Homo sapiens: one gene and its partners. The protein of the gene in region 5 interacts with the protein of the main gene of each other region in a pairwise test. Each region holds a gene or a part of one and is shown on either strand. Other genes may lie near its edges.

Region 1 (4,353 bases), on a different chromosome or scaffold from region 5:
ATCTGCCTGGTGGCAGTCCTGCCACATCTGTGAAACTCACCCACAGAGCTCTCATCTCAACCTGGCCCCATGACGCAGGATGAGTCCAAACTGAGAGTACAGCCTCTCCTCTCCCTCTGCAAACATCTAATGAGCACCTGCCACATGTCAGACACTGGATCAGGGTCCTGTTCCTGCACAATATAAGGTGGTGGTCTTGGAGTCAGATAGACCTGAGTTTGAATTTTACCACCATTAACTTTGGCCAGTGACTTTTACCCCTTTCTGAACCTCAGTTTTCTCGCGTTCAAAATGGGAATACATTAGCACTCCTGCCTCGCAGGATAAGGTTTGATGAAGTAACATACATAAAGTTACATAGCTCCCTGCTTTGGCACAAAGTAACTTCCAATAAACGTTGCTGTCAAAGCGGTCACCATTCAGTTGGGGGGCAACATATTTATGAGACAGCATGGTCTAATGAAAAGACCGGAAGTGTGAAGACTGGACTTACTGGAGTGATTCTTAACTCCAGTGTCTCTGTCACTCCACCTGTAAAATGATTATTTTTCCTAAATGTGAAATGGCCCAAAAAATACTTCACTTACAGTGCTATTGTGCAATAAATTAGACAAATGGATGTGGAAGTGCAGTATAGAACAAAAAGCACTGGCTCTGAGATCTACATGACGGGATGATGTATATATGGGGTGCACTGGCAAAAGCCCCAGATTAAAAGCCACTAGAGGCCGGGCACGGTGGCTCACGCCTGTAATCCCAGCACTTTGGGAGGCTGAGGTGGGTGGATCACGAGGTCAAGAGATCGAGACCATCCTGGCTAATATGGTGAAACCCCATCTCTACTAAAAATACAAAAAATTAGCTGGGCATGGTGACACGTGCCTGTAGTCCCAGTTACTTGGAAGGCTGAGACAGGAGAATCACTTGAACCTGGGAGGCGGAGGTTGCAGTGAGCTGAGATTGTGCCACTGCACTCCAGCCTGGGTGACAGAGTAAGACTCTGTCTCAAAAAAGAAAAGAAAAAAAAAAAAAAGCTACTAGAGTAGACCTGGCTGTAGTTCCGATTTTCCTCTAATTTGCTGTGTGGCCTGGGGAAGATCCCTTCCCCTCTGAGTTTCCTTATTTTACAAATGGACTCAGTTCTCTCTGAGATTCCTTCATTTGGGACATTGTGATTCTGCCTTTGGCTGACACAAAATGATTAGGGTCATCTGCAAGGGTTCCACGGGGGAGTTCCCAGGGGAAGTCAGCACTGAGGGTGGTCAGGACCACCTGGAAAGCTTCCCCCCATAAGAGACCGCCCCAGAATTCTGGCTAGGAGCCACTAGAGGCCTATGGAGCAGATCTTGATGGTCAACATATCTTCTCTGGGTCCATGAAAATCTGTGTCATTTTCAGATTCTCAGACAAGAGAATCCCACACCTCATCCCACTGTCAGGGCCAGATCGCGGGCTGGAAGGGAGCTCTGGCTGGGCTCTTGGGAACTTTAAAAATAAGGGGACCGGAGGGCTATTCAGACAGACAGGAAGTAGGAATTAGAAGGGAAAAAATGCTGAAGCGGAGCCAGAAGATGCGGATTCCCTGCTGGCTTTGCTCCTTAGCAGCTGGGTAGGCTGGGCAACCTGCTTTAGCTCCCTGAAGCTCAGCAACCTCATCTGTAATATGGGCTTTTGTAAGGCTCAAAGGAGGGAAAGACATATAATGTTGCCAAGAAAACTGTAATGTGAGGTTTGCCTCTGAGATATGGGAAGAGGAGAAGGGGGGAAATAATACGACAGGGACAAGCTGACCAGGAGATTGGAAAAAGGAATGGCAGCACTGCTTTGCCCTGAAATGGGTGCGTCAGCCTCCAACAGATGGTCCCAGCGGAGGGATCAGGCTGAGAGGCAGTGACGTGTGCAAGGCTAACCTAATACCCGGAAAGACGCTTTATCAAGCTGGGGGGAACAAAGGCCGTGTTTCTTAGTGTGTCTTGGCTCTTGGGGTTTGTCCCCAGTGAACCAGTGAGGCTTTGTAAACAAGCTGCCCCATAGATCTCAAGATCTGGCCTTACAAGCCCTGGACCTAGCTTGCTGGGTCCTCCCTCCCAGGAGCTATTATAGACCTCTTACCAGGTCGGCTTGTCCAGATGTTTGGGTGGGAGATATCCTTTTCCAGATGTGTCTGGACAAAGCCAGAGACATAGCAGTAGGATTTGACAAATGCTATCTGGTCTCTTCTGCAACCTTCTCTGAGCAGTTGATGAAAATGATCCAAATTCAAATGCCAAAAGGGTTGGGACCCTTGGGCTGGGACCCTTGTGTTAAGTCATATACGCCCCCATTCCACAAAGTCCTAGGCCATAGATTTTATGGTGCTTACATCTCTGTTCCCCAGTGATGCCAAAGACATGGGTGAGAGAAGAAAGCTCTACCATGAGTTCTGCTGTATTCCAAGCCCTTGCTGAGTACTGAAGCTGCAATAGTGAATGTAACAGACATGGTTCATGGCCTCATGGAGCTTATGGATTTGTTGGAGAGATAGACATCAATCAAATAACCATATAAATATAAAACAATGAACTGGCATAAATGCTGTGAAAGCAGGGTGCTAGGAGAGTATTGAGCAGGGGACACTAGTGGGAGGAGGAATGTTAGAAAAGGCTCCCCAGGGAGGTGCCATCTGAGTTGAGATCTGATGGGTTGTAGAAGTTATGGGGCAAAGGGACTGGGGCTTGGGGTGATGGGTGAACCAAAGATGGTGGACCTAGGCTAGGGGACAGTGCATGCAACTGAATGAAGGAGTTGGTGCATTCATAGGCTGGGGCATACAGAAGAAGACGGTTGAGTCTAGAGGGGTTGACAGGGGCCAGTTGGACCACCTGAAAGATGGTGGCCTTGATCTTAAAAAACATTGGGGCCAGCCATGGTGGCTCATGCCTGTAATCCCAGCACTTTGGGAGGCCAAGGCGGGCAGATCACCTGAGGTCAGGAGTTCAAGACCATCCTGGCCAACATGGTGAAACCCCGTCTCTACTAAAAATACAAAAATTAGCTGGACGTGGTGGTGGGTGCCTGTAATCCCAGCTATTTCGGAGGCTGAGGCAGGAGAATTACTTGAACCGGGTGGCGGAGGTTGTAGTGAGCCAAGATCATGCCAGTGCACTCCAGCCTGGGCAACAGAGTGAGACTACATCTAAAAAAAACCCAAAACAAACAAACAAAAGTTGGGGAGCCACTGAGGAGTTTTAAGTGAGTGATATGATCAGATTTCAATGATCACTCTGCCTGCAGTGTGGAGATAGGCTTGTAGAGAGTAAAAGAGGGTGTAAAAGGACCCAACAAGAAGCTCTTGCAGTCACCCAGATGAAAGATGATAAAGGCGTAGCATTGAGAGAAGTGGCGGAGAGGAAGAGGACAGACGTGAGATATATTTTAGACATAGCGTGGGCAGGTTTTGATGAGGTGGGGGTGAGGAGGAGGAGGAATCAAAGACAGCATCAGCTTTCCACCTTGCAGAACTGGGGTACCTTCACTGAGATGGGGAAACCCAGGGGCAGCAGGAGCAGGTGTGGGTGAAGGCCAGCTTGCAGATTCCTGTTCAGATGTGTGGCGTTGTGTCTTCTGAAACGGCAGGGGAGTCACCTTGTTTGTTGTTTGTTGGTGCAGTGTCTGCCCACTGGAGCTGAGTTGAGGAAGGGAAGGGCTGGGGTCTGGCTGAGTGCACCAGCACCCACCCAGGCCTGAATAGGGCCTTAGAAGTGTTGGCCAAATGAATGATGCCTCAGTGGACCCAGCGAATCCTCACCATTCTAAGAGAGCTTCTGAAGCAGAAAACCTGAAGAAGGGTTAGCAGTTGGGCTGGAGATTATTTTGGTCAGAGTCTGGGCAGGAAAAGCCCCCCCAGGGCTGAGCCTCTTCTCTGTAATGGGAGCTCCTGGGGTGTGAGCAAACATCCATCATTCAACCGGGGCGCAGAGGGAAGGCCCGGAGTGGGAGGAGAGGCCGAGGTTGGAGGGACGGGGCCTTCTGGGAGGCCAGGGCAGTGTCCCAGAGCATCCGAGAGGGGCCTGTGACCCAGATGCCGCCTCCCCTTCGCCCCCGGCCGCACCGCGTGGGAGGAGGCGGCAGCTGCAGGCGGGGCGGAGGGCGGGCGGCCGGCGCGCCCGGCCCGTGGGAAGCAGCGGCATCTGCTCTTTCCACGCTCGTTCCCAGCGGCTCCCTCTGAAACCCAACCCGCCCGGCCCAGCCCCGCCGCCGCCGGCCAGTGCCCTCGCCCGCCCCGCCCCCGGGGATCGGGTTGCAGGAGCCGGAGCCACCGCGCCGCGGTACGCGGTTCCCCGACGGCCGCCGCGAGGGGCGAGGAGCGAGGAG
Region 2 (4,353 bases), on a different chromosome or scaffold from region 5:
TGTGCATGAACGTGCATGTTTGTCTTGGCACCCCTCTCCTAGGGCCCTCCAGCTTTTTCATCATCACCTCCCATCTCCAGGGCACACTGACTGGGGCTGCCTTCTAGAAAAGTGCATCGGGCTCTCATCTTGGTGCATAAGCTCATGACATACAGTAAGTCACTTCCTTATCCTGGTCCTTAAACTCCTCTGTGAAATGGGAAATAATACCAATCTATAAAACTTACACACCTTAAAGAGCTGGCCACCTCTAGAGAATCAGGCTTTGCTATTAATGGACTTTGGAAACCATGTGCTCAGAAAGGAGCAGGCACAGCAGTGAGAAACCGAGGCCATGTAGTGACACAGGGGAGGAGGAGGAGGAGGAGGAGGAGGAAGGTGTCAGCGGGCAGAGGGAGCAGTTATTAGAGAAGGAAAAAAGAAGCGAAGATCTTTTAAATAACAGTTCTTTGGGAAAATGCAGCAAGCACTCTCCTCTAAATTAATTTTCTACATTCTCAGTCTAATAATCCAGATGATGGCTAATTTTCAAGGCAATCTAAATGGTTTTATATGGGGTTTCCTATGTAAATCCTTAGAGCGTTCTTTGATAGGCACTATGGCACATTTTAATCTAAGTTCTGCATTTTAGTTGATCCATTGAAAGATCATCTTAGAACTAAAATGTTATCTTTAGAAATTCTTAACCCCTGAGGATGATAATTAATGATCAAAATGCGTGTAGAGCCTACACAGCAAGTCAGAATATCAAAATGATTAACTTAGCCATGCACATCACTGGGGTTTCTTAATTATGCAATAAATTCAATGAAAATTGTGAGGGTTTCTCTTTTCTCCAAAATGAAAACAGGTTTCTTTGTCTGATATGTGAAAAATTCCATCATGCTCACTTTGGCAGCATGTATACTAAAATTGGAACGATACAGAGACTAGCATGATCCCTGTGCAAGTATGACATGCAAATGCATTAAGCATTCCATTAAAAAAATTTCTTTCAATACAGAAAGTATATAAAATATAAAAATTGGCTGGGTGCGGTGGCTCATGCCTGTAATCCCAGAACTTTGGGAGGCCAAGGTGGGCGGATCACCTGAGGTCAGGAGTTTGAGACCAGCCTGGCCAACATGGCGAAACCCCATCTCTACTAAAAATACAAAAAATTAGCTGGGCATGGTGGCAGACACCTGTAATCCCAGCTACGTGGGAGGCTGATGCAGGGAGAATGGCTTGAACCCAGGAGGCAGAGGTTGCAGTGAGCTAGATTGTGCCACTGCACTCCAGCCTGGGCAACACAGTGAGACTCCATCTCAAAAAAAAAATGTGTATATATATATATATATATGTGTATATACATATATATATATATGAAGTCCAGGATCCCAAACCCTCCCATTGGAAACTATCACCATTAACATTTTGATGTATGGCATTCTAAACATTTTTCTAAGCTTATCTGTATATAGGAACTTTTTCAAAATTAAGATTATTATTCATAGAATTTGTAACTCTGAAACATACTATTAGTACTTATCTATGTCAATAAATATTCTTTTTTTTTTTTTGAGACGGAGTCTTGCTGTGTCACCCAGGTTGGAGTGCAGTGGCACAATCTCAGCTCACAGCAACCTCCACCTCCCAATTCTCCTGCCTCAGACTCCTGAGTAGCTGGGATTACAGGTGCACGCCACCACGCCCAGGTAATTTGTTGTATTTTTAGTAGAGATAGGGTTTCACCATGCTGGCTAGGCTGGTCTCGAACTCCTGACCTCGTGATCAGCCTGCCTTGGCCTCCCAAAGTGCTGAGATTACAGGTGTGAGCCACTGTGCCTGGCCTGCAATAAATATTCTTTTTTAAATATTGTTTTTCTAACATAATTTTATTGGATACATAATATTCCATTTTAAGGGATTGATTCACTTAACCAATCTCTTGTTGTTAGACATTTGAGATTGTTTCTAATATTTCACTACAATAAATAGTTATAAACAAATATAACCACAGCAAATTAGAAGGCTTTACACTTCTTTGCATGCACAAATAAATTGGAAAATCTGGATGAAGTAAATGATTTTCTAGAAATACATAATTTACCAAAATTGATCTTAAGAGGGAAAGAAAAAGAATGGACATGATTAGATATACCAGCAAGTATAGGAAGAATTTAAAAGTAGTCCAAATAGTCCAAGGGCTACCTCTCCAATAGTGCCACATCCAGATGGTTTTATAGGTGAAATCTCCCAAATCTTTAAAAATTCTATTTGTAGTATTCCAGAAATAGAGAAAGAAGGAAATTTTTACATTCTTTTTTTTAAAATTCAGAATAACATTAATACCGAACTGAACAAAGATGGCACAGGAAAAGAAAATAGAGCAATTTCACTTATGAATATCAATGCAAGATTTATAAGTAAAATTTAGCAAATATAATCCAAATGAAAGGAATAAAACACCAAAAACCCAGATTAATTCATTCCAGCAATTAGTACTGATCATTATCAGGAAATCTAACAATATAACCCACACATTATTATTATTATTTTTTCTTTATGAGATAGGATCTTGCTCTGTCACCCAGGCTGGAGGGCAGGGTGTGATCATGGCTCACTGCAGCCTCAACCTCACAGGCTCAAGTGGTCCTCCCACCTCAGCCTCCCAAGTAGCTGGGACTATAGGCATGCACCACCACTCCCAGGCTGGTCTTGAACTCCTGGGCTCAAGCTATCTGCCTGCCTGGGCCTCCCAGAGTGCTGGAATTACAGACATGAGCCACTGCATCTGGCCACATCGTTATTTAAAAGAAGAAAAAAAATATATAATCACCTGCCTAAAAGACATGATAAAAATAACTTATTTCCAATTAAAAAAAAAAGAAATTCCTAAACAGTGGGAATAGATTGATGTTTCCTTTAGATTATGGACATATAGCCAAAAACTAGAAAAATGGTAATTAAAAAAATTTTTTTTCACTTTTCAGATGGAAACAGGCACATAAAATGATAATATTTGTAGACAGAGAAACAGAAAACCAGGTCAAGTGTGGTGGCTCATGCCTGGAATCCCAGCACTGTGGGAGGCAGAGACAGGCAGATCACTTGAACCCAGGAGTTCAAGACCAGCCTGGGCAACATGGCGAAACCCCATCTCTATAAAAAATACAAAAATTGGGGCCGGGCGCGGTGGCTCACGCCTGTAATCCCAGCACTTTGGGAGGCCGAGGCGGGTGGATCATGAGGTCAGGAGATCGAGACCATCCTGGCTAACAAGGTGAAACCCCGTCTCTACCAAAAATACAAAAAATTAGCCGGGCGCGGTGGCGGGCGCCTGTAGTCCCAGCTACTGGGGAGGCTGAGGCAGGAGAATGGCGTGAACCCGGGAAGCGGAGCTTGCCGTGAGCCGAGATTGCGCCACTGCAGTCCGCAGTCCGGCCTGGGCGACAGAGCGAGACTCCGTCTCCAAAAAAAAAAAAAATACAAAAATTGTCCAGGCATGGTAGTTCGTGCCTGTAGTCCAGTTACTCAGGAGGCTGAGGTGGGAGGATGGCTTGAGCCCAGGAGCACCAGTGCACTCGAGTCTGGGTGGCAGAGCAAGACTCTGTCTCAAAAAAAAAAAGAAAAAAGAAAAGAAAAGAAAGGAAAAAGGAAAAGGAAAAAGAAACAGAAAGCCAAAATTTTTAAAAAACTAACCAAAAGCCAGTGTCACCATAAAAGCAGAAGCAGCAAAACAAAGTGGCTGAAAATAATTCTGAAACTAGAATTCCTGGGTTCAAGTTCAGCTCTGTCTCTAGTTGTGTGACCTTAAACAAATTACAGTCATGCATCATTTAACAATCTGCATACATTTTGAGAAATGCATCATTAGGCAATTCCTTCATTGTGTGAAGTCACAGAGTGTACTTACACAAACCTAGATAGTAGAGCCTGCTACTCACTTAGGCTGTATGGTATACCTATTGCTCCTAGGCTACAAATTCACACAGCATGTTACTATACTGATTACTGTAGGCAACTATAACACAATAAGAAGTACTTATATATCTAAATATAGAAATGATACAGTAAAAATACAGAATAAAAGATAAAAAAATGATACACCTGTAATAGGGCACTTACCATGAATGGAGCTTGCAGGACTGGAAGTTGGTCTGGGTGAGTCAGTGAGTGAATAGTGAGTGAATGTGAAGGCCTAGGACATTACTGTACACTTTTATGTATAGTAATGTACATACAGTAATATACATACAGTAATGTACTTGCTGGCAGAGCAGTAAGTTTGTTTACACCAGCAATGCCACAAACACGTGAGTGTGATGCACTACAACATTATGATGGCTACGATGTCACTAGGCAATAGGA
Region 3 (4,353 bases), on a different chromosome or scaffold from region 5:
TTGCGTGAGCTTTTACTCTGAGTGACATATGGAATCAACACAGGGTTTTGAGCAGAGGAGTGACATGATTCCACTTGTGCTTTAAAGAATCACTGTGACTGCTTTTTGGAGAATAGACTGTAAGGGGGCAAGGGTAGAAGCAGAGACCATCTGAGACTATTGCAGTCACCCAGGCAAGAGGTGATGGTGGCTTGGGCCAGGATTGTCAGAGAGAAGGTGGTGAGGAGTGTTTGAAGTCTGAGAGCCAAGAGGGTTTGCTGAGGTTTGGATGTGGGATGTGAGAGAAAACAGTCAAGGAAGACCCTGAGAAGGAGAAAGCTGTGGGTGGAACAGGTTTTAGGGGGGAAAATCAGGAGTTTGGTTTTACATATGTTAATTTTGAAATAAACATGTAGCAATGTGGAGTAGCCTTGGACATGTGAATCCAAGCCTATTCTACATCTTTACATGTTTTTTTCAAGTGATGAATAGAAACTTCCCATTTATTTCCCAAAACTTAAAAAAAACTTTAGTTTTAAATGATTACTTTCTGATTCCTCATTGCTTAAAGTGTGTATGAGTGTACACATACACACACTCTCACAGTGTACAACCCAGAAATGAAATGCCCAGAATTCCATCTCCTGGAAATAACTGTTGGTAATGGTTTGTTGTATTTTTCTTTAGGTTTTTTTCCCCATATACCCACACTCCAGAGCATATTTACTGTAATGTATAGTTAAGCATGTTTTTCTCTATTTATCAACTCTTTTTGTAAAATTTACTCATTATTGTTTCTCCATTTGAATGACTTTAAAATCGTTTTTTAATCTGTATGTAACTTATGTGGAGATCAAAAATAAAGAAATAGATTTTTCTTAATATGCCTGGCATTTTTAGTTGTAAGAAATATCTTTTGTTGGCATGATGACACCAGTCTGTACTTTCAACTACTAGGGAGGCTAGGCAGGAGGACCATTTGAGCACAGGAGTTCAGGTCTGCAGTATGCTGTGATTGTGCCTGCAAATAGCCAGTGCACTCTAGGTTGGGCAACACAGTGAGACCTTGTCTCTGATTTTTTTTTAAAAAAGGAAATACCTTTGGCTTAAATTATGTTACTTGATACACATGGAATTGATACACATAGAGTTGTCTGAATTTTACTTTGTGATCTGTAATGATTATTATATATACATTATGTCTTCCTTCTGTGTCTTTATTTATTTATTTTTATAAAGATAAAGATGGGATCTCCCTGTGTTGCCCAGGCTGGTCTCAAACTCTTGGGCTCAAGGGATCCTCCTGCCTCCCAAAGTGCTGGGATTACACGTGTGAGCCACTGCACCTGACCTTTATTTATTTTTAACTGAAGTAGGTAAAGGCAGTTGCTCTTGTTGCCCAGGCTAGAGTGCAGTGGCACAATCTCAGCTCACTGCAAACTCTGCCTCCCAGATTCAAGTGATTCTCTTGCTTCAGCTTCCCAAGTAGCTGGGATTACAGGCACCTGCCACCATGCCCGGCTAATTTTTTGTATTTAGTAAAGATGGGGCTTCACCATGTTGGTCAGGCTGGTCTTGAACTCCTCACCTCAGGTGATCCACCCACCTCAGCCTCGCAAAGTGCTGGTATTACAGGCATGAGCCACTGCACCCAGGCCTATTTATTTATTTATTTATTTATTTATTTATTTATTTAGAGACAGTCTCGCTCTGTTGCCACCCCGCCCCCACCCCAGACTGGAGTGCAGTGGTGCGATCTTGGCTCACTGCAACCTCCGCCTCCCAGGTTCAAGTGATTCTCCTGTCTCACCTTCCTGAGTAGCTGGGACTGCAGGTGCCTGCCACCACGCCTGGCTAGTTTTCTGTATTTTTAGTAGAGACGGGGTTTCACCATGTTGGCCAGGATGGTCTCAATCTCCTGACCTCGTAATCCACCTGCCTCAGCCTTCCAAAGTGCTGGGATTACAGGTGTGAGCCGCCCATGCCTGGCCCGGCCCCTATTTATGTATTTTGTGAGATGGAGTCTGACTCTGTCACCCAGGCTGGAATGCAGTGGCCAGATCTCGGCTCACTGCAACCTCCGCCTCCCGGGTTCAAGCAATTCTCCTGCCTCAGCCTCGCGAGTAGCTGGGATTACATGTGCCAGCCACCATGCCTGGCTAATTTTGTAACTGCCCAAGGGGTTCACCTTGCCCGCTGCCTAGACAGAGCCGATTCATCGAGACAGGGGAACTGCAATAGAGAAAGAGTAATTGACACAGAACAAGCTGTGTGAGAGACTGGAATTTTATTATTACTCAAATCAGTCTCCCCAGCATTCAGAGAGCAGAGTTTTTAAGGATAACTTGGTGGGTTGGGGGAAGCCAGTGAGCCAGGAATGCTGATTGGTCAGAGATGAAATCACAGGGAGTTGGAGCTGTTTTCTTGCACTGAGTCAGTTCCTGGGTTGGGGCCACAAGATCAGATGAACCAGTTTATTGATCAACTGGTGCCAGACCAGGTGTGAGCTTGATGGTACTTGCAGCACCAAAGTTTTTAATTTTGATGAAGTCCAATTGATCTTTTTATTTTGTTGCTTGTGCTTTTGGTGCCATATGTAAGAAGGCTTTGCCTACCCAAGTTTATAAAGATTTTTTTGTTTTCTTCTAACAGTTTAAAAGTTTTAGCTCTCACATTAGGTGTATGATCCTTTTTGCATTAATTTTTGTATATGATATAAGGTAAGGGTCCAATTTATTCTTTCATATGAGGATATCCAGTTGTTGTAGCACCATTTGTTCAAATTTCCCCATTGAATTGTTTTGGCATTCTTGTCAAAATCAATTTGCCATATATGTAAGGTTTTATTTCTGGATTCTCAGTTTTGTTCCTTTGATCTATTTGTCCATGTGCCAACACTATACTGTCTTTATTACTGTACTTTGTAGTAGATTTTGGAATTGCCAAGTGCGAGTTCTCCAACTTTGTTCTTTTTCAAGATTTTCTGTCTGTTGTGGGTCACTTGCATTTCTGTATGCAATTTAAGTATCAGTTTATCAACTTCTGCAAAAAAAGGTAGCTAGGATTTTGCAAGGCATTGTGTAGAGTTTGTAGGTCCATTTGAGGAATATTGTCATCTTAACAATATTGCGAAAGACATAGATTGTCTTTCCATTTAAATAAATTAAGTTGCATTTAATTTCTTTCAGTAATGTTTTGTAAGTTTCAGAGTACAAGTATTATGCTTCTTTCTCTCAATTTATCCCTAGTTTGTTCTTTTTATGCTATTATAAATGAAATTGTTTTACTAATTTCATTTTCTGATTGTCAACTCACTAAAATTTGGCCTCTGCCATACTGACCCTGCCTCAGCCTAGACTAGTAGAGTACAGGGGTCACAAAGTCAAATGCCTGCAGGAGCCAGGTGTATAACCTGGAGGAGTGAAGCAGGCTGAGTGGGACAGTGGTCACTGGGTCAGCCCGTGCCTGGTTTAGAGGGGACAGCCACTCTCGAGTTCTAGTTGATGGTTGCTGTGAGGTTGTGATGGTTTAGCATTGCCACATCTTATGATTTTCCAAGAAAAACTAGAAATCTGGATTTTTGTGTGAGAAATCCTAATTTGCAAATGTTAGCAACAAATCAGACACATACACACACATGCACACACAGTATAGGCCAAGCGAATCATATGTATTTTTAAGGATGATGTTTGAAGATGATGCCAGTGAACAAAATGAGAGTGAAATGTTTGATGTACCACTCACCTCCTTAACCGTAAGCGATGAAGAGTCCCTGATGTGTCCACTAACATTTCTCTTGCCGTAGTAACCATTTTCCCTCTTAATTTTTCTTTCTGATTTCTCAGTCTAAGAACCCTGTTTATTACAGCAAGTTTGCTAAACATCATTGCAGCATAGTTTGGGCTTGCTTTTTTGTTTTATTAACACTCATATAATGTTTTTCTATTATTTGTGATTTTAGGCAGTTTAACAAAGTAGTTTGTATGAGGTATGCATTGGGTGACTGACTTCTGGATCTGATGTCCACAGTTCACAGTGGGGAGTGAAGTAATTTGGAGGGTCATATTACTTCTTGAATCATTACCATTTGTAAATGTTTGGCAGTCAGGTTCATTTCAACAAGCTGACCTCAAATTCCATGTCAAAAATATTCATCTTTTTTTTCTTTTTAATATATAAAGGCCCTACTTTTTTGGCTATTAGTCTGCTGGACATTCAGAGCAGAATAATCCAAAATAACCAAGAGCTTGTATAACTCATGTTTGCCTGCCTTAAAATTTCTTCAAGAAAGTAAGTATTTGAGTGATTTCAATGAGGTTTTTAGTCTGTTTGAATGAAACAACTTTATTTAAATGTTATTTAAATAATTTTTTC
Region 4 (4,353 bases), on a different chromosome or scaffold from region 5:
TGCTTTGTGACTTTAGATGGAGCCTCTGAAGAACTTCATCACCATTTTCTTCATCAGCTTTAAAAGAGAGAGAGAGAGAGAATATAGGTTAAATAATAACTGGCTAGGCGTGGTGGCTCACACTTGTAATCCCAACACTTTTGGAGGCCAAGGCGGGCGGATCACGAGGTCAGGAGTTCAAGACCAGCCTGACAAACATCGTGAAACCCCGTCTCTACTAAAAATACAAAAATTAGCCAGGCGTGGTGGTGCACGCCTGTAGTCCCAGCTACTCGGGAGGCTGAGGCAAGAGAATTGCTTGAACCCAGGAGGCGGAGGTTGCAGTGAGTCAGGATCATGCCACTGCACTCCAGCCTAGGCGACAGAGCGAGACTCTGTCTCAAAAATAATAATAATAACCAGAGTCCCCTGTTACTTAACAGTTCTGTGATTCATAAGTAATTCCTTTTAGTATTCAGTAGGACTGTCTTCTTATCCTGTTTCTTCTACTGACTTTGTGAAAGCTATTCTTCCATCTTACTAGCAAATAATGAGTTAACATTTAGATTAAGGTTATCTCAAAATAATTTATACTAATGCTTATAATTTTCTATCAAGAAAATCCTAATGTTTTCATTTTTATCTGAAAATGTTGTTTCTCTACCCATTGGGCTACCCAAAGTCAGTGATGACTAGATAATGTTGGACCAATAAGAGTTGCTTTTTCTTACCCTTCAATTGCATGTGACTTCATTTCCAGGCTTTGCCTACTTTTAGTAGGAAGCACACACTGCAGACAGGTTGGGTTCTAAGAACTTCACAGGATTTAGAACTAAACATTTTACGTTAAAAATTAAAAACCCTTAATAGTGGCTAATTGTGATTCTTCAAACATTACCTTTAATTCTCAATAACATTTTATCCTCTTGGGAAATTCTCATTTGATTCCCATCCAGTGAGGTAATATAACTGTATGGCATGGGTTTCACATAAATAGATTTTTAAAACACACTAAATGTAAATGCACATGGCATTTTTTTTTTACATTTTGTTATTGGTAGGGGCCCCACATTAGATGTTGACCTGATGTTTTACTCATGTAGTTTTCTAGCAGATTATTTTAAAGTCTTAATAACTTGTTTGTTCTTTATAAAGTGATCCAGAAGGGTGTTTCACTGTACTTTGCCACATATTAAATAGTAAAGAGATTTGAAATCTTGTCACAGTTTTTTGAAAACTTTCTTTTTGCAGCTGGTTATATTCTGGGCACTAAATGAAGGCGTTTCTAGGCAATTTGATTCGTTCAGAGATGGATTTGAATCAGTCTTCCCACTCAGTCATCTTCAGTACTTCTACCCGGAGGAAGTGAGTAGCTTATATCTAAAAGAAATGGTCATACCTATAATTTTAGTGGAGTGTTTCTGTGCTGCCTAGTCAAAGACCGTATTGTTGCACAAAAACAAAAAAATGGGTGTTAGATAGCAGGGGATGGATGTTTGGGAAAGACAAGGAAATTGCCTGAGCAAGGAAGAATGTTAAATAGGTGTCCCCTCTTAGATTGGGGAGCGGGTTCCACGCGTGACAGTAAGCATAGCATCTTTGTCAGCCAAGACCCTCAATGCCATTCAGTGGAGAATGGGGACTTGTGCTGTGTGTGGCATGTTCTACATGTTTCTGTACTGCTGTGGAAGCAAAGAGAGACATGGAGGGGGCTTGACTTTATTCCTTAACTAAACTTCGTTTCGATGAGACATTGTTTCACAATCAAAGTTAGTCCTTGAAGTTTTAAGAAAGTATTATAAATTATCTAATTGCCAAATACAGAGAATACTTCTGAGAATGGAAGAAATGGATTTATGTGCTTGGTTTTCTCTAGCCGCCTGTATTAGTCTGTTTTCATGCTGCTGATAAAGACATAACCGAGACTGGGCAATTTACAAAAGAAAGAGGTTTATTAGACTTAGAGTTCCACGTGGCTGGGGAGGCCTCACAATCATGGTGGAAGGTGAAAGGCACATCTCACATGGCAGCAGACAAGACGAGAGCTTGTGCGGGGAAACTCCCCTTTTTGAAACCATCAGATCTCGTGAGACATATTCACTATTATGAGAATAGCCTGGGAAAGACCTGCCCCCATGATTCAGTTACCTCCCACCAGGTCATTCCCACAGCAGGTGGGAATTGTGGGAGTTACAGTTCAAGATGAGATTTGGGGTAGGGGCACAGCCAAACCATATTACCGTCTTTAATTTCAAGTGCCAAATCTCAAAAGAACTACTCACTGGTAGTGAGATACAGAAAGCCTCTAGAATGTGTCCAGTTTCCCTCAGTTTTGAAACCTTTTTATTTATTGTTTGAATACTAGTTTTAGAGTGTATGTTCACTACTGATTAAATCTATAAATTTTTGATTAACTTAACGTCTTAATCTCAGTTATATTTGTGTCTACTTAAGCATGTAGTGTGCCTGATACTTGTAGGCACTGCTTGTCACCTGGAATAGAATCATGGTCCTCACCACTTGCTGTATAACCTTATCCAAGTTACTGTATCTGATAGGACTGTTTCATCTGTAAAATTGGAATAACCCCTATCACAGAGTAATGGAAATTAAATAGGCTGGGCACAGTGACTTAGCCTATAATCCCAGCACTTTGGGAGATGGAGGTGGGAAGATCACTTGAGCTCGGAAATTTAAGATTAGGCTGGGCAACATAGTGAGACCTTGTCTAAAATAAAAAAAATAATTAGCTGGGCGTGGTGGTATGCACCTGTAGTCTCAGCTACTTGGAAGGCTGAGGTTGGAGGATCACTTGAGCCCAGGAGATCATGACGGGAGTGAGCTGTGATTAGGCCACTACACTCCAGCCTGGGCAACAGAGCAAAGCTTTGTCTTTAAATATATAGGACCAGACAGTGAGCATTATATAATAGATATTAAATTTCATTGGCCTCAAATTGGATTTTCTCAAAGTATAAGGACATGAAAGCATTTATTGCTTTCTAATATTCATTCTATAATATCTGGGTTGGTCCCCATACAACCAACCATGTAGCGTAGACATGCCTCTCTACAAAGTGTAAAGACCTACCCATTTGCTGTGTCCTAGTTCAGCTTGCTTCTCCCACTTCTTTCTCCAGCTCAATGTTCTCTCCCTTGGCATCTGTTACTGTATACCTTTGTGTTTCTGAAAGCCAGGATTTATAAAATCTCCCTGACTAGAAGCAGATTATCCATTTAAAGCACCTAAAGTAATGAGAAGAAAGGAAAACTGAAATCAAGGGTCATCAGGTGTTTTTGGTTTGAGAGGAAGGGTTTCTCAGGAACCAAGTCCCTGCAGATGGGCAGGGTACTTAATAGCGTACAGCTAAAAAGGAAATGGAATCTCTAAATTTTATTTTATTTTATTATTATTTTTTTTTTTTTGGAAAGAGGTCCCAAGCAGAAGGTTTTAGTACTGAGACTGATACTCTTTTATGGTACACGTAGACCTTTATTTTCACTCACGTAAACAAATGTTTCCTTAGTAATTCTTTTTACCCTTATTTAAACTCACAGCTGGATCAGCTCCTTTGTGGCAGTAAAGCAGACACTTGGGATGCAAAGACACTGATGGAATGCTGTAGGCCTGATCATGGTTATACTCATGACAGGTAAGTACTGGGGTCTGCCAGTTTTTCTGTTGATTCTGAAGAATGTGGAGAGGGGTGTGTGTGTACACACACATGCGCACATGTGTAAACAACAAAAGTTGGAGTGGTTCATTTTAAAATGTGTCTACCTGTTAATGGATGCTTACTTCTGTTTTGGCCTTATTTCTCTGAAGATGGGAAATTAAGACCCAAGGGTTTCTTTCTCAAGTATTTCTGTGAAAATACTAGGGGTTGGGGAAGACAGATTTAATCTTGTTCCCCATTATTACATATAGTAAAGCAGAAATATCTGTACAGTACCAGATCAAGTCTTACTTATTACAACTGTAATCATTCCATTTGAATTCTAGTCTAGTCATAACAGAAACGAATTTAAGTACATTGTAATGGAAAATGTATGTGTAATTTAAAAGTGCTAATCTAATTTTTATGTCATGTGATGCGATGCAGTGTGATTAAAACTCTATTTTAACCTGATGAAATAATTTTGGTATATTTATTTCTGTTATAGTCGGGCTGTGAAGTTTTTGTTTGAGATTCTCAGTAGTTTTGATAATGAGCAGCAGAGGTTATTTCTCCAGTTTGTGACTGGTAGCCCAAGATTGCCTGTTGGAGGTGGGTACGATGTTGATGTTTAGCATTTATTCTACCTATGGGTGGGTTTGTGAGTGTGAAACTTCAGTACCATCAGCAGGAGATTCTTTATCTCACTTGCAGTGCC
Region 5 (4,353 bases):
TGTCCAGCAGATGTTTTTAAAGGAGGGCAAGGAGGAATCCTATGTGGAATTAGTGCCCAAAATAAATGCCTTCATCCCTAACTTTGCCAATGATGAATGCTGCCAAACCTTGCAGATATGACAATCAATGTGAGAAAATGGCTGCTTTTTCACCAGGAAGATGTTTACTGTAAATTTAGTGAATTTAGTAATCGTGTGGCGTTTTTTCCTTTAAATACCCGTTTGTTTTTTAATGAGTCAGTCCTAAAACTGGTCTCCATCACAAACCTTTACAAGTAAACTACTTTCTTAAATGCTTATTTACCTTACTAATGAGTGGTAATATGAAACCGACCTTTCCAAGTTACTTTTTAAATGCATTTACATTCTAGCTCCAGAAATCAAGAATATTATTTTCATAAATCTCCCTGTACTGCAGGGCTCCCTGCACATAGTTGCTTCTTAATAAATATTCATGACTGACTAATTGATTCACCAATTGATTAAAGCTAGAGATATGTGTGAGGCACAGATGCTAAGCATTTTATATATCTAATCATATTTAACCCTCACAACACTACCATGTAGGTGGTAACACCACATTTTAAAGATAAAGAACACTGAGAGGAGACACTAATTGCCCAGGTCCCAATACAAAACTACTGTTCTTTCCACTTCACTGTATAACTAACTGATTTTAGGAAAATTTTTTGTTTTTTCTTTTGTTCTTCTTTTCTTTCTTCATTTTTTTATTTATTTTTATCTTTCAATGTTTAAATCATTTAAAGTAAGTTTGGTGGGGGAAGAGGATTATACAAACCTAAAATACAAAATAATTATATCATTCCATCTTTTCCTCAAACCCTTATTAATTTACATACGTAGGTTCTTCACAGTCATATTTTAGAAACTTTTTATTAACAAGCAACTGGTTCTTAATGGATGACATTGAAAACTGTTTTTCCTAAAAGCAACTATTTATTATTTTTCATATGTAAAGTGCCTGTCAAATCTTCCCATGACAATTCATCATGTGGGTATTTGCCATCTGAGTAAATTACATGTTTGATTAAAAAAAAAAAGTTCTGACATCTGTGGATAATGAGTTAAATAAAAGAAAATAATTAGAATATCTTATTCCCTTTTTTTTTTCACCTCCACCTAAAACGAAGGAATTCTATTCTTTCAATAAGCAAGTATTTATTGAATATTAAGGGAGGCATGGTGGAAAGCAAGGCATGGTGGAAAGCAATCTTACACTTTTAATAGTGGTCTTATCATACCTTATTAGAAAGGATTTGTCTTAAAAAATTGTCAGATATATCAATAAGATATGATTCCTAACCCCAGGAAACTTATAAAGTACTACACAAAAAACAAATAACTATAAATATAAAAGTGGAAAGGAATAAATGCCTTTAAAAAATATATGAAGTAAAGCAAAGAAAAATTAGAGAATTTCCAGTTGAGAGCAACAACATGCTTTAATAGGCATACTATGTGGGTGCCATGGCAACTATGACTTTTATTCACAAAAACCAAGGATTTGTATCACAGAGCTATTAAGAGTTCTCCTAACACACTACCTTCCTTTCTGGCTCTAAGATTTTGAACATACTATTTATTCTCTTTACTAGTATTATCTGTCTAATTCATTCCTTAAAATACAACTCCCATAAAATCTCCTTGATCTCCTTCCAACACTCTCACCACTTTCTGTACCCTACAAAAATATATATTGTTTTACTTGTCATATTCTGTAGAAAGCTACTTTTAACTACTTACTTATTAATCAGGTAAGTTTTGCCTATATGCAGAGAATTTACAACCACAATCTTTTTACCTGTGTATATTACAAGGCCCTTGGAAGTCACATTTTCGGCCAGGCACAGTGGCTCACACCTGTAATCCCAACATTTTGGGAGGCCAAGAGGGGAGGATTGCTTGAGCCCAGGAGTTCAAGACCAGCCTGGGCAACAAGGCAAGACCCCCATCTCCACAAAAAAAAAAAAAAAAAAAAATTACAAAATTAGCTGGGTTTGGTGGCATGTGCCTGTAGTCCAAGCTACCTAGGAGGCTGAGTCAGGAGGATCCCTTGAGCCCAGGAGGTCAAGGTTACAGTGAGCCATGATCACACCACTGCACTCCAGCTGGAGTGACAGAGTGAGACCCTAGTCTCAATTAAAAAAAAAAAAAGTCATATTTTCCATCATGGAAAATGTATATTTTATACATACAGTTATAAACAGAGAAAAAAAAATCTGGATAAAATAATGCAAACATAAACTATTCAAACAATTGTCACTCGATTCATCTACAGTCCTTTTGAATTAAGCAAGTTAACCTGTAAAGTTCAAAAATACTACACTGAGTTTTAAAAATTTGAAATTCTAATTCTTGCAAAACTAATCATAATGTTTTCAACGGCAAGCAGAGAGGGGAAGAATTCTATCAAATATAAATATTTATAATAACTGGGACCCCAACCACAAATCATGAACACAAAACCCCCAAAATACCATTTCAATGGAAAATATACAGTTATACTATAACTGAACCTAAATCTTAAAAGAGAAATAGTTTTCAGTACCAAATTATGAAGTACTTTGAGACCACTTCTCCCAATTCCTTATATAGCAGAAAATGCTATTCATTAATATCCATTTCTCTTTTATAAAATTCTCTAGTTTTAGCTAAGCATATGATTATCCAGCTAGATATATTTCCCAGACTTCCTTTCCCAGCTAAATATGTCCCAATGACTAAATGATCACACATAAACCATGAGTCAAAGTGCTATGTGCCACTTCCATATCATGCTCTCAAAAGAAAGAATATGCACTCCCATTGTTCTTTCTTCCTTGCCTCTAGCTAGTAAAACTAGAGAGTAATCATGTTTCACCTAGTGATGGAAGCCATATGTTAAGGCAAAACCACTTACAAACTCTAAACAGTCTTACTTTGTATGGTTACATGAGAAAAAAACATGTGTCATCTTTAAACAACAGGAATGGAGTCTCCTATACTGTGGCAGCTTAGTTTTTACTCTAATGGAATTCACTTCTGACATTTACCACCTAAAAGGAAATAAAAGAGTTCAAAAGCAGTCTCTCTTTTCCCTTACATGCTTTTTCCTATGACATTCTATCTAATAAGAGTAACAGGGCAGATATACATCTAAGGCTCCAAAGCCTTAGCTGGGAATAAGCTGCAGCAGTCAAGTCATCCTTTATTGTTCCATCAAACTCTTTCTCCTGGTCCTCAAAACAGCAGATTCCCTTTCCATCTTTTTAGCTTTATCCTTCTACAAAATGGTAGGCATTATCACTGAGAATTACTGAACCAAAGAAAGTTCCTTTTACAGCTTTGACAGTTCTGAGGACAACTATTCTAACATACAAATCAAATTTCTTATTAGAATGTTAAATTATTAGAATGCCAAGAGTGATGGACACATAATTTCTAGGTATCAAACCAGATAATACTTCCCCAAAGTAGCATAGGGCTATACAAACAACAAAGAAAGGGAGAACGGATCATATATAGTAAGACATTATGGCATTACTACCTCACATCACCATCATACAAAGGGGTCCTCTCTCCCAAATACAGCTAGTTACTACCAGTTATTGGATATAAAAGAACACAAAATGTTTCTTATAATATTCTGAGCAATGGAAAACTGCAGACATGAATAAGTGCATATTTCTGATGGCAAAGTTAATAAGTCATCTTCATTTCCCAGATTCTCATATTCATATAGGTCCAACTATAAAGACTCTCAGGAAGGTATAACTGTTCCCTTAGGCCTATGGTATTTTTTTTTTTTTTTTGAAAAGTGGCTGAGGTACCTGAGTCATCCTCTTAAAGATTCTAAACTCCAAATGATCGAAATTTAAAATTGAAACATTCACACCATATAAACAAGCACTAGTAGCCCTGATCTACTTATTCTTAACTGAAAGTGCTCCCCAGCACTCACTCTCTGTCTCCAATACAAAATGGTTTCCACCATGCAAGCTGAATCATCTATAAAAAGTTTAATTTTCTTTGTTTTCAACAAATTAAAATGCCTGGAGGAGCCCCTGATTTACTCTGTGGATGGCAGGACAATCTGAGAAAGAACATGGCAAAGTAATGTTTAAATACTCTTGGCCTCTCTAATAAAATATAAGGTCAAACAAGCAAGAAGTTTAAAAGAGAGTTCCACTAAAGGATAGGCAATTTCTAAGTACTCTAGGAAAGTGACAAGGACTATGGTCTCTGAAGCTAATTAATGACATTAAGGTAATCTGTTTAAATAATGTTAAAACATCACCTAATTTTTCAATCAATAATATGCCCCACAACTGTTAGAAACTCAAAAGGCAGGAA
Region 6 (4,353 bases), on a different chromosome or scaffold from region 5:
GTTACCTGCAGGGCAGTGAGAACATAACTTCTACCAACTTTGTCATTCTGTGACATGGCCAGCTTAATGAAAGAAGCAGGGCTGTAAGCTTTAGATTTAGGATAGGATCTCAGAGTTTCATGTAAGATGCTGTGAGTACAGAACCCCTTTTGGTAACAAAATTTGGAAGGACACAGTGGCATTTCCTGATTGCCAACCTGAGGGATTGATTGATCTGCCTGCTTCCTTCTCATGTTGTGACATACAGCTGCTGATGAGGCCATGCCATGAAACAGCACAGTCTCAAAGTAGTCCCATCCTTTCACAGCATGCTAGAATAGGAGAGTAGAACTTTGTCTTGAATCCATCCACAGTATTCATAATTGTGCTTGGCATATAATGAAAATTCAATAAACATTTGCTAGATGAATGGAATCCCAAAGCAAGCACAGTCTTTTTGAAATTTTCTAGAGGTTTTCAGCTAGTAATAACAAAATGGAAACAGAGGTAAAGAAGATGAAAAAAAATGGCTTTTTTCCCTTTCTGTTTTTCTGCTCTAGCTCCATAAGAAAAAGACAGAGAGGAACATTTGGGGTTATCTATTAGTGGGTTTATGGGTTGAGAAAACACAGGAATAAAAGTAAATACTTGTATCAGACTTTACTAATATTTCATCACAGTAGCTTGGAGTTGGGATAGTGAGGAAACAAGATGGTAGAAACCTAGTTTTTACTAAAATAGGTTGAGCCCATTGGTGTAATTTCCCTTGTCCCTCATCATTCATTCCTATAAGTAATGGCCTCTTGAACTTACTTTTGCAGAGCAGGGAATCTTAGGTGACAGTAAGAAAAAAAGCATGCCATTTCTTGTCTGTCAGCCATTGACGAAGCTCTTCCCACTTCACTGTTTATAAAGGACTTAGTGTAACTTGAGAATACATTCTTCTTTGTAGTTATGTTTTGGGTGGTTTTTCTTTTCATAATTGGTCAGTGCTTTCCATTAGGATTCTTTATTTTCTTTTCTACTGAGACCCTTACTGGGCTAGTAAAATGAAACTGTCTTAGTGGGTATATATGGTTTTCCACCAGAGGGTCATTCAGAAACAAACTCTTAGTACTATTGCTTACTTCCTATCAGTCCTTGTAAATAGAGGGCTGAATCAGATTTGTAAAAGAAGTTAGCAGTGGTAGTCTGGATGATTTCCTTTTTTCAGGGAAGTGGACAGAAGAAGAAGAAAAGAGACTTGCAGAAGTGGTTCATGAGTTGACAAGCACTGAGCCAGGTGACATAGTCACACAGGGTGTGTCTTGGGCAGCTGTGGCTGAACGAGTCGGTACCCGCTCAGAAAAGCAATGTCGTTCTAAATGGCTCAACTACCTGAATTGGAAACAGAGTGGGGGTACTGAATGGACCAAGGAAGATGAAATCAATCTCATCCTCAGGTTTGTGTCCTGAATCTTGTAATGACAAAAGCAACTTAATTTCTGTGGATGTCTTGATAGACTTTCCTCTTTTGGTTTTCCTGGATGCCTAGTGTCTGAAAAGTATCCTTTCCATAGAGCACTACTGTTTAAGATCTTAAGTATTTCATATTGAGCTCTTTTTTTGTGTTGTGTTTGTTCCTTTTTTTTTTTAGTGGGTTTAGTGCTCATGCAAAGTACCAGATTGAAGGCGTGGAGACTGAAGTCCTCTCTATATCCACAGAACAGGTATGGCACAGGCAGCGGCAGTGTAGCTTTTCCACTGTCCCACCAATGTGCCTCAGTCCTAGCCTAGGGGGAACACGTTTAGGATAAGAGGGCTGTTCAGTCTCCATGCCCTTCAATCCTTGGCTACTGTGCTAAGATTGCCAAGAAGGGGGCCCAGTCTGTAGTTACCTCCACACCTCCAAAGTAGACCAAATCAAACACATCCATTTCATACAAATTCAAAAAAGCTTTAAGATATCATAATCCCAGCTTATTTTTTTAAGTAGCTGGTTTAACCATTAAGATTTATTAACTAAAATGGGCAAAAATACTAGCAAGAAATTATTTAAGACCCTGAAGTAATAGAGACTGTCACCATGGCTACTCCCTACCGAAAATCAAATTGTCACAACAAAGCTAGAAAACGAACAGATTTTTTTAAACCTCAAATTTTGTTGTACTGTTGTGTTGTTTTTTGATTGCAGCTATTGCTTTTGTGTTATTTTGTTTTGGATTTTTTTTTCAACTAGTCATCTTTATAAATAGCTCATTTCTAAATATTTTTGCTTAACAATGGAAACGCTCAGATCCAGGAAGTAAATGACTTAGTAAATGCCACACTATGAAACATTGCATATATACAACTAAATCTGTTCTTATTCTAACCTTTAGCATACTCCTTTTCCTTCACAGTGCCTCATCTGGCTCTAACCATTTATAGTTTAGCCCATTGGTTGTACCTTTAATTAAAAGTGGTTGCTGTTGGTATTTCTTAGCTGTTAGCTCTGAAAGCAGATCTGCACTCCTGGAATCCTTTCCCGTGTAACTTAACAATAGCATCTCATTGGCATAACCTGCCATTCCCTTTATTTGCCAGTGCAATTACCTGTAGTCAGAGGAGGGGTTCTTATAGAGAAATTAATTTAATGTCTAACGATGCTTATTTTGTAACTGTAGGATAGCAGAACTTGATGTAGCTGATGAAAATGACATTAACTGGGATCTGTTAGCTGAGGGATGGAGTAGTGTCCGTTCACCACAATGGCTACGAAGTAAATGGTGGACCATCAAAAGGCAAATTGCAAACCATAAGGATGTTTCGTTCCCTGGTAATGTATTACTTACTTTTTAAGCTCCTCCCCTTTTCTTACCATATTTACTCCTTAGGAGTGAGAGGTTAGAAGTTCTTTGCCCCAGCTAGAGATATCATAGCAGATTTCTACTTACACCACTTCCCTGTTTCTCTCAGTAATTGTTTCCTTCCCCAGAGAAGAGTTAATACTGTTTGTAATTCCTAAAGCCCCTAAAATGAAAATGTACACACTTATTCTTGTTCTTCTACGTAAACTATCAGGAGGAAATAAAATCATGCCACATAACGATTTAATTTTTATGTTTTTAGAGACAGGGTCTAGCTTGGTTGTCCAGGCCGACATGCAGTGGTGTGATCATAGCTCACTGTAACCTTAAACCTGTCGGCTCAAGTGATTCTCCCACCTCAGCCTCCTGAATAGCTCGGACTACAGGCACACACCACCATGTCCAGCTATTTTTTTTCGTAGAGATGAGGTCTTGCCATGTTACCCAGGTTGGTCTCCAACTCCTGGGCTCAAGTGATCTTCCCAGCTTGGCTTCCCAATGTGCTGGGATTACCTGCATGAGCCAGCATAGCTGGCCACTCATAACCTTTCAGTCAACAACAGATGTCATACATAGTATTGGTCTCACAATATTAAAATACTGTATTTTTACTTTTTTTCTATGTTTAGATACACAAATATTTACCATTGTGTTACAGTTGCCTACAGTATTTGGTACAGTAACATGCTGTAAGGGTTTGTAGCCTAGGAGCAATAGACTGTATAGATCATCTAGCCTACGTGTGTAGTAGGCTGTACCATCTAGGTTTGTGTAAGTACACTGTGATGATCCCATGACAGAATCACCTAATGGCTCATTTCTCAGAACATATCCCCATCCTTAAGTGATTGATGACTATATTTTTATTTTGTACAAAGATGTACTTCTGAAAACCTAAGTTTAAGTCAACTTTTGTGAGTTGTATAATTTCAAATATCTTAGCTAGGTGTGTTAGAGAAATTCTGTGATAATTTTGTAGAACAAAGGCTCTGTAATTTTCTAATTTTATTAATTATATAAATCTAGAGATCTTAAGTTGGGTTTGCTTAAAGTGAAGCATACTTTTTGTTGCCTGTTTTGCATTTAGGTATTAAACTTAGTTGTACAGTCTGTTTAATTTAGGTTACTAAATTTATTCCCCTTATTATAGCACTCTTAACTTCCATTATTCCAAAGGAAAATTTAATGCTGAGGAACTTTGCCTTGATGAAAATGTGGTTTTTTAAAATACCCAGGTATAGGCCAGGTGTGGTGGCTTATGCCTATAATCCCAGTACTGTGGGAGGCCAAGGCAGGAGGATCACTTGACGCTAGGAGTTTGAGACCAGCCTGGGCAACATAGCAAGACCCCATTACTACAGAAAAAATAAAAACCAATTAGCCAGGCATGGTGGGCATGTGCTTGTAGTCCCAGCTATTGGGGAGCAAGAGCCTGAGGCAGGAGGATGGCTTGAGTCCAGGGGTTCGAGGCTGCAGTGAGCTATGATTATGCCACTCCAGCCTGAGCAACAGAGCAAGACCTTGTCTAAAAATAAAATTAAATTAA
Region 7 (4,353 bases), on a different chromosome or scaffold from region 5:
CCTATGTGGTGCCAGTGGCACAGATGAAAGATCATGAGTCCTCTCTATGAATCCCTTGGCCACCTCATAAAATGGTACTATCCAGCAAAATATTATTTAGTAGCAAAATATACTTTAATGGAAAAATCATTTTAAGTAACTGAATAAAAATGTGTACCAGGAACTTTCCCAATAGACAGCAGAATATGTACATTTTGTGAGGGTAGAGCAGCATCTATTTAATATAATTTTTATATAGAAAATACAGGCATATTTAAAAATGGAAACATGTAAGAAAGTATGTCACAAGGAATAACAAAATATATCACAAAATAAAAAAAGTAACCCCAAGTAACAAGTTTACTAAACAAGACCCAGCACCATGTTGGACTTTCTTTGCATAAGTTCCAGGATGCCCAGGCACTACCGAGGAGAGATGATCCTGCTTTTGGGAGAGCCAGATGGTCGTGCAGTGGTTAAAACCCAGTCCTCCTTTTCCTGGAAAAAAAAAAAAAAGCAACCAAATAGATTCAAAAGAAAAAATTGAACTGAAGAGCTAACATCTCTTTAGGAGTTGATGAAAACAGGATTGAAAGTCCCAGATACCTGGGCATTATCTGTGATGTTTATACGGATGGGGGTCATTCTTTGAGATAACTAAGAGGCATGGGAAACAAGTGCTAACTTATGGAAAGATCTGAGAAGCATCAGACCTGAGTTTTACTCTTGATTCTGCCACTAGTTTTCTATCTATCTTACAATTCTCTCTTCTGTAAAATGAGGGGTTTGGAGCTAATGAACCTAAAGGTCTCTTAGTCCATTAACAATCTATGGTTTTTCATTATGATATTTGCTTAGGATCAGTTTTCTGAAGATGTGCACAGAGGTCAGAGGAAACACAATTTCCTTCTGAACAACTGAATTATCTGGAGAAAAGGCCAGGTCAGTCTTATTTATCAGTAGAGAAGGTAAACATTGAGGGATTTAATGGATGCCACAAGGCATTTCTCTACCAACTGACATTCATGCCAGGAAATTGCTCCATCTGTTAACAAACCTTTATTGAGCAGCGACTTTTGTGCCTGTACAAGGCACTAGGCATATATATATATTTTAAAACAAGATCTTACTCTGTTGCCGAGGCTAGAGTGCAGTGGCACAATCTTGGCTCGCTGCAACCTCTGCCTCCTGGGTTCAAGCAATCCTCCCACCTCAGCCTCCTCAGTAGCTGAGACTACAGGTGTGTGCCACCATGCCTGGCTAATTTTTCTGGGTATTTTTTGTAGAGATGGGATCTTCCTATGTTGCCCAGGCTGGTGTTGAACTCCTGGGCCCAAGTGATCCGCTTGCTGCCTTGGCTTCCCAAATTGCTGGGATTACAGGTGTGAGCCATCACACTCAGCCCAGCATACAAACTTTAAGGCATTCAGTCTCGTAGGAGAGAAGGAAAAACTTATACGGTAACATTTATTGTTTATTTCTCAGACAAGCACTCTTCCCCCTCCCACTTTCTTTTCTTCTGGGAATTGCCAGACTCTCCTCCCTTTTACCCAGTTTTTTGCCAAAATTACCCTTTATGTTGGTACAACATAATCCAACCTAGGACATTGATTCATGCTTGGCCATTGAATCAATCTGGACCAATCAGAGTCCTGGATTTTTAAACTGGGACAGTGTACTATGTCTCCGGATACTGTATGGTGACATGTAAAAAATTCTGTAAGAAATTTTGTCCTGGCCAGGCACGGTGGCTCATGCCTGTAATCCCAGCATTTTGGGAGGCCAAGGCGGGCAGATCACTTGAGGTCAGGAGTTCGAGACTAGCCTGGCCAACATAGTGAACCCTCATCTCTACTAAAAATACAAAAATTAGGTGGGTGTGGTGGCATATGCCTGTAGTCCCAGCTACTCAGGAGGCTGAGACAGAATCGCTTGAACCCATGAGGTGGAGGTTGCAGTAAGCCGAGATTGCACACTGCATGCCAGCCTGGGCATCTGAGTGAGACTCTGTCTTAAAAAAAAAAGAGAAATTCTGTCCTTCCCTTCCACATGAACTAAACAGAAGAAAACCACTCTGTAGCTAGACAGGATGGAGGAGACCCTGGAAGAGGTGGTGACATGGGAGGTGGAGAGGTACACGTGGCTTTCAAGTCCCCAGTCTGGTCCTCCTGATGCTCAACCACTCCTCTGTCCTTGGGTTCCATACAAGGTCCCTCTATTGTGATAATAAATTCTCTTCTTTGCTTAAACTAGTTAGAGTTTTAGCAAGAATTACAGTATATACAGGAGGAGGAACCTGTCTGGTCCTCTGGGTTGCTAGTTAGCCTTCCCTTGAAGGTGAGCTACACCTCTCAGCTTAATTTGCCATTATTTTTCTTGGATGCCTATATCAAACTTTTGCGTAAAAAATCTAGATCTTGTTTTCCTGATTAATGTACAGTATTTTAATACATGCTAATAATTATCCTTTCCTCAATCAAGAAAGAACTCCTATCGACAGTTTTTAAATCATGCAAACTCTCTCTGGGCTTTTCTTTATCTGAAAAATGAAGAGGTTGAAATATAAAATCTAATATTATAAAAAAGTACTAAATACTTCTTTTTTGAGTCACTGTTTTTTCTCTTTTATTTCCTCTCTTTTGGCTCTCATTTTCTTAAATTCAGCTCTGCTCTCAGGTAAAGGTATAATCTTGGCAGCTTCTAAATATATTTGTCCATTTCAAATTTGCTGTTTAGGGTTCAGTTTATTTTTTCTCCTTTTGCAGAGATGGCATATACTTGAGATGATGTGAGGAAATTCACTGGCATTAGACAGATTTTTTTGTTGTTGTTAGGTTTTACTTTAATTGCTTTTTTATATTTGCAAGTTGACTTTGACATTCCAATCAAAATAACAAATCAGGAAATGAAAAATAAAAGTTTTCAGTTAACTGAATTTTTCCCACTTTAAAAAATGAATATGGAAATACCCATTTGTTTTTAATGAGTCCTATATGGTAGGGGTAAGTGTACATAATACAAATCTAAGTGCAGTGATATATATTGAAAGTCTTAAAATATAGCTGATAATATTTCAACATTGCAACATTGGTGAGGACAATGTTTGAATATTGAAAATATTTTATCTGTGGTATGTCACAATATGGCTGATATTTTCCTGATGTTTAAAAAGTTATAAATGATCTTTTAAGTATTTTCCCTTTGACTTGTGATAGTATTTTTAAACTGTGATATTTATCTGGTCAGAAATAAGAAACCGATGAAAAAACATATTTTTACATAATCTTTTTGTAGTCAATGAAATGCTACGCATAGAAACACTAAAATACAAAATATATTACTTTAAAATAAACGTTTCTTATCAATTCAATACTATTTTTATTGTAATGAAGAACTTAAACATCTATTGGGTCATTTTCAATAAAATTACATTGAGTTTATTTATTTTACATCCTTGCATCTGTAGGATGCAATCTTCTGTTCAAGAAGTTTATTTATTTATTTATATAACCGATTTTTTTTAATTGCAAAAACTGTGGAATGCTTCACAAATTTGTGTGTCATCCTCTAGCATGGGTCATACTAATCCTCTCTGTGAAGTTCCAGTTTTAGTATATGTGCTGCTGAAGTGAGCACAAGACTGCTTATTTTTGAGATATTCTTGTTTTGTCAATCCTGAACTAATATTTCTTAGCTTTGGCTTTAATTCAAATTTAGAGAGCCTGTCTCAAAATGGATGTTTTCACATACAAAATACTTACAGTCAAACTAGACAGAGATAACTTCTGGCTCTTAGGACAATTTACTTGAATTTTAGAGTCTTCATGTTATAGGCGAACATTAGTTTTTGGTTATCTTACCTGGAACAGTTATGTCCCGTCCAAGAAGAAAGACAGTGACATCGGTTTGGTCTTACACATTTTCCACCATTTAAGCAGGGAGACTGGCAAACAGCTGGAATAAAAAACCCATGCATTTATTTAATTAATACTTAGCAATTCTGATGATATCCATAAAGGCACGTAGGATAAGATTTGACTCTACTTCCTGCAGCAGCCACTGCTGGTCTTCATATACCGTTAGCATTATCCATTTCTGCTGTTCTGCTTGACTTCACATCCTTATGTGGTACCACCTCCCTTTTTCCTTCCAAGCTGGTCAATTTTCACATTTAAGTCCCAGATTAAGTTCTACCTACTTATTGAAGCCTTTGCTGATCACTCCAAGTCCACTGATTTTCCTCTTCTCTAATCTCTTTTAATTTATGCAACCAATCTGACACTTTGAATGTTTTGAACTATAAATTTTTTTGTGTTCAATTAGATTGTACATTTCTTTCCACTGACTTGAAGCTCAAGATTGTAAATTCCTCGA

Evidence for each region.
Region 1: the proteins of ATF7IP (region 5) and HEYL interact in a two-hybrid assay, tested with the Homo sapiens proteins (one large-scale study listed by IntAct).
Region 2: the proteins of ATF7IP (region 5) and SUSD1 interact in a two-hybrid assay, tested with the Homo sapiens proteins (one large-scale study listed by IntAct).
Region 3: the proteins of ATF7IP (region 5) and EPG5 interact in a two-hybrid assay, tested with the Homo sapiens proteins (one large-scale study listed by IntAct).
Region 4: the proteins of ATF7IP (region 5) and TRIP12 interact in a two-hybrid assay, tested with the Homo sapiens proteins (one large-scale study listed by IntAct).
Region 6: the proteins of ATF7IP (region 5) and DMTF1 interact in a two-hybrid assay, tested with the Homo sapiens proteins (one large-scale study listed by IntAct).
Region 7: the proteins of ATF7IP (region 5) and SVEP1 interact in a two-hybrid assay, tested with the Homo sapiens proteins (one large-scale study listed by IntAct).

What each region holds. Positions count from the first base shown.
Region 1 is NC_000001.11:39,632,939-39,637,291, reverse strand, and holds part of HEYL (hairy/enhancer-of-split related with YRPW motif-like protein), read left to right. Parts: intron 1-4,276; exon of another isoform or gene 4,277-4,353. UniProt on the Homo sapiens protein: Downstream effector of Notch signaling which may be required for cardiovascular development. Transcriptional repressor which binds preferentially to the canonical E box sequence 5'-CACGTG-3'.
Region 2 is NC_000009.12:112,136,915-112,141,267, forward strand, and holds part of SUSD1 (sushi domain-containing protein 1 isoform 2 precursor), read right to left. Parts: intron 1-4,353.
Region 3 is NC_000018.10:45,956,981-45,961,333, reverse strand, and holds part of EPG5 (ectopic P granules protein 5 homolog), read left to right. Parts: intron 1-4,353. UniProt on the Homo sapiens protein: Involved in autophagy. May play a role in a late step of autophagy, such as clearance of autophagosomal cargo.
Region 4 is NC_000002.12:229,768,510-229,772,862, reverse strand, and holds part of TRIP12 (E3 ubiquitin-protein ligase TRIP12), read left to right. Parts: intron 1-1,230; coding exon 1,231-1,344; intron 1,345-3,537; coding exon 3,538-3,632; intron 3,633-4,143; coding exon 4,144-4,247; intron 4,248-4,353. UniProt on the Homo sapiens protein: E3 ubiquitin-protein ligase involved in ubiquitin fusion degradation (UFD) pathway and regulation of DNA repair.
Region 5 is NC_000012.12:14,371,920-14,376,272, reverse strand, and holds part of ATF7IP (activating transcription factor 7-interacting protein 1), read right to left. Parts: intron 1-4,353. UniProt on the Homo sapiens protein: Recruiter that couples transcriptional factors to general transcription apparatus and thereby modulates transcription regulation and chromatin formation. Can both act as an activator or a repressor depending on the context.
Region 6 is NC_000007.14:87,183,205-87,187,557, forward strand, and holds part of DMTF1 (cyclin-D-binding Myb-like transcription factor 1), read left to right. Parts: intron 1-1,192; coding exon 1,193-1,421; intron 1,422-2,624; coding exon 2,625-2,776; intron 2,777-4,353. UniProt on the Homo sapiens protein: Transcriptional activator which activates the CDKN2A/ARF locus in response to Ras-Raf signaling, thereby promoting p53/TP53-dependent growth arrest. Binds to the consensus sequence 5'-CCCG[GT]ATGT-3'.
Region 7 is NC_000009.12:110,366,084-110,370,436, forward strand, and holds part of SVEP1 (sushi, von Willebrand factor type A, EGF and pentraxin domain-containing protein 1 precursor), read right to left. Parts: intron 3,934-4,353; coding exon 3,840-3,933; intron 478-3,839; coding exon 456-477; 3' UTR 1-455.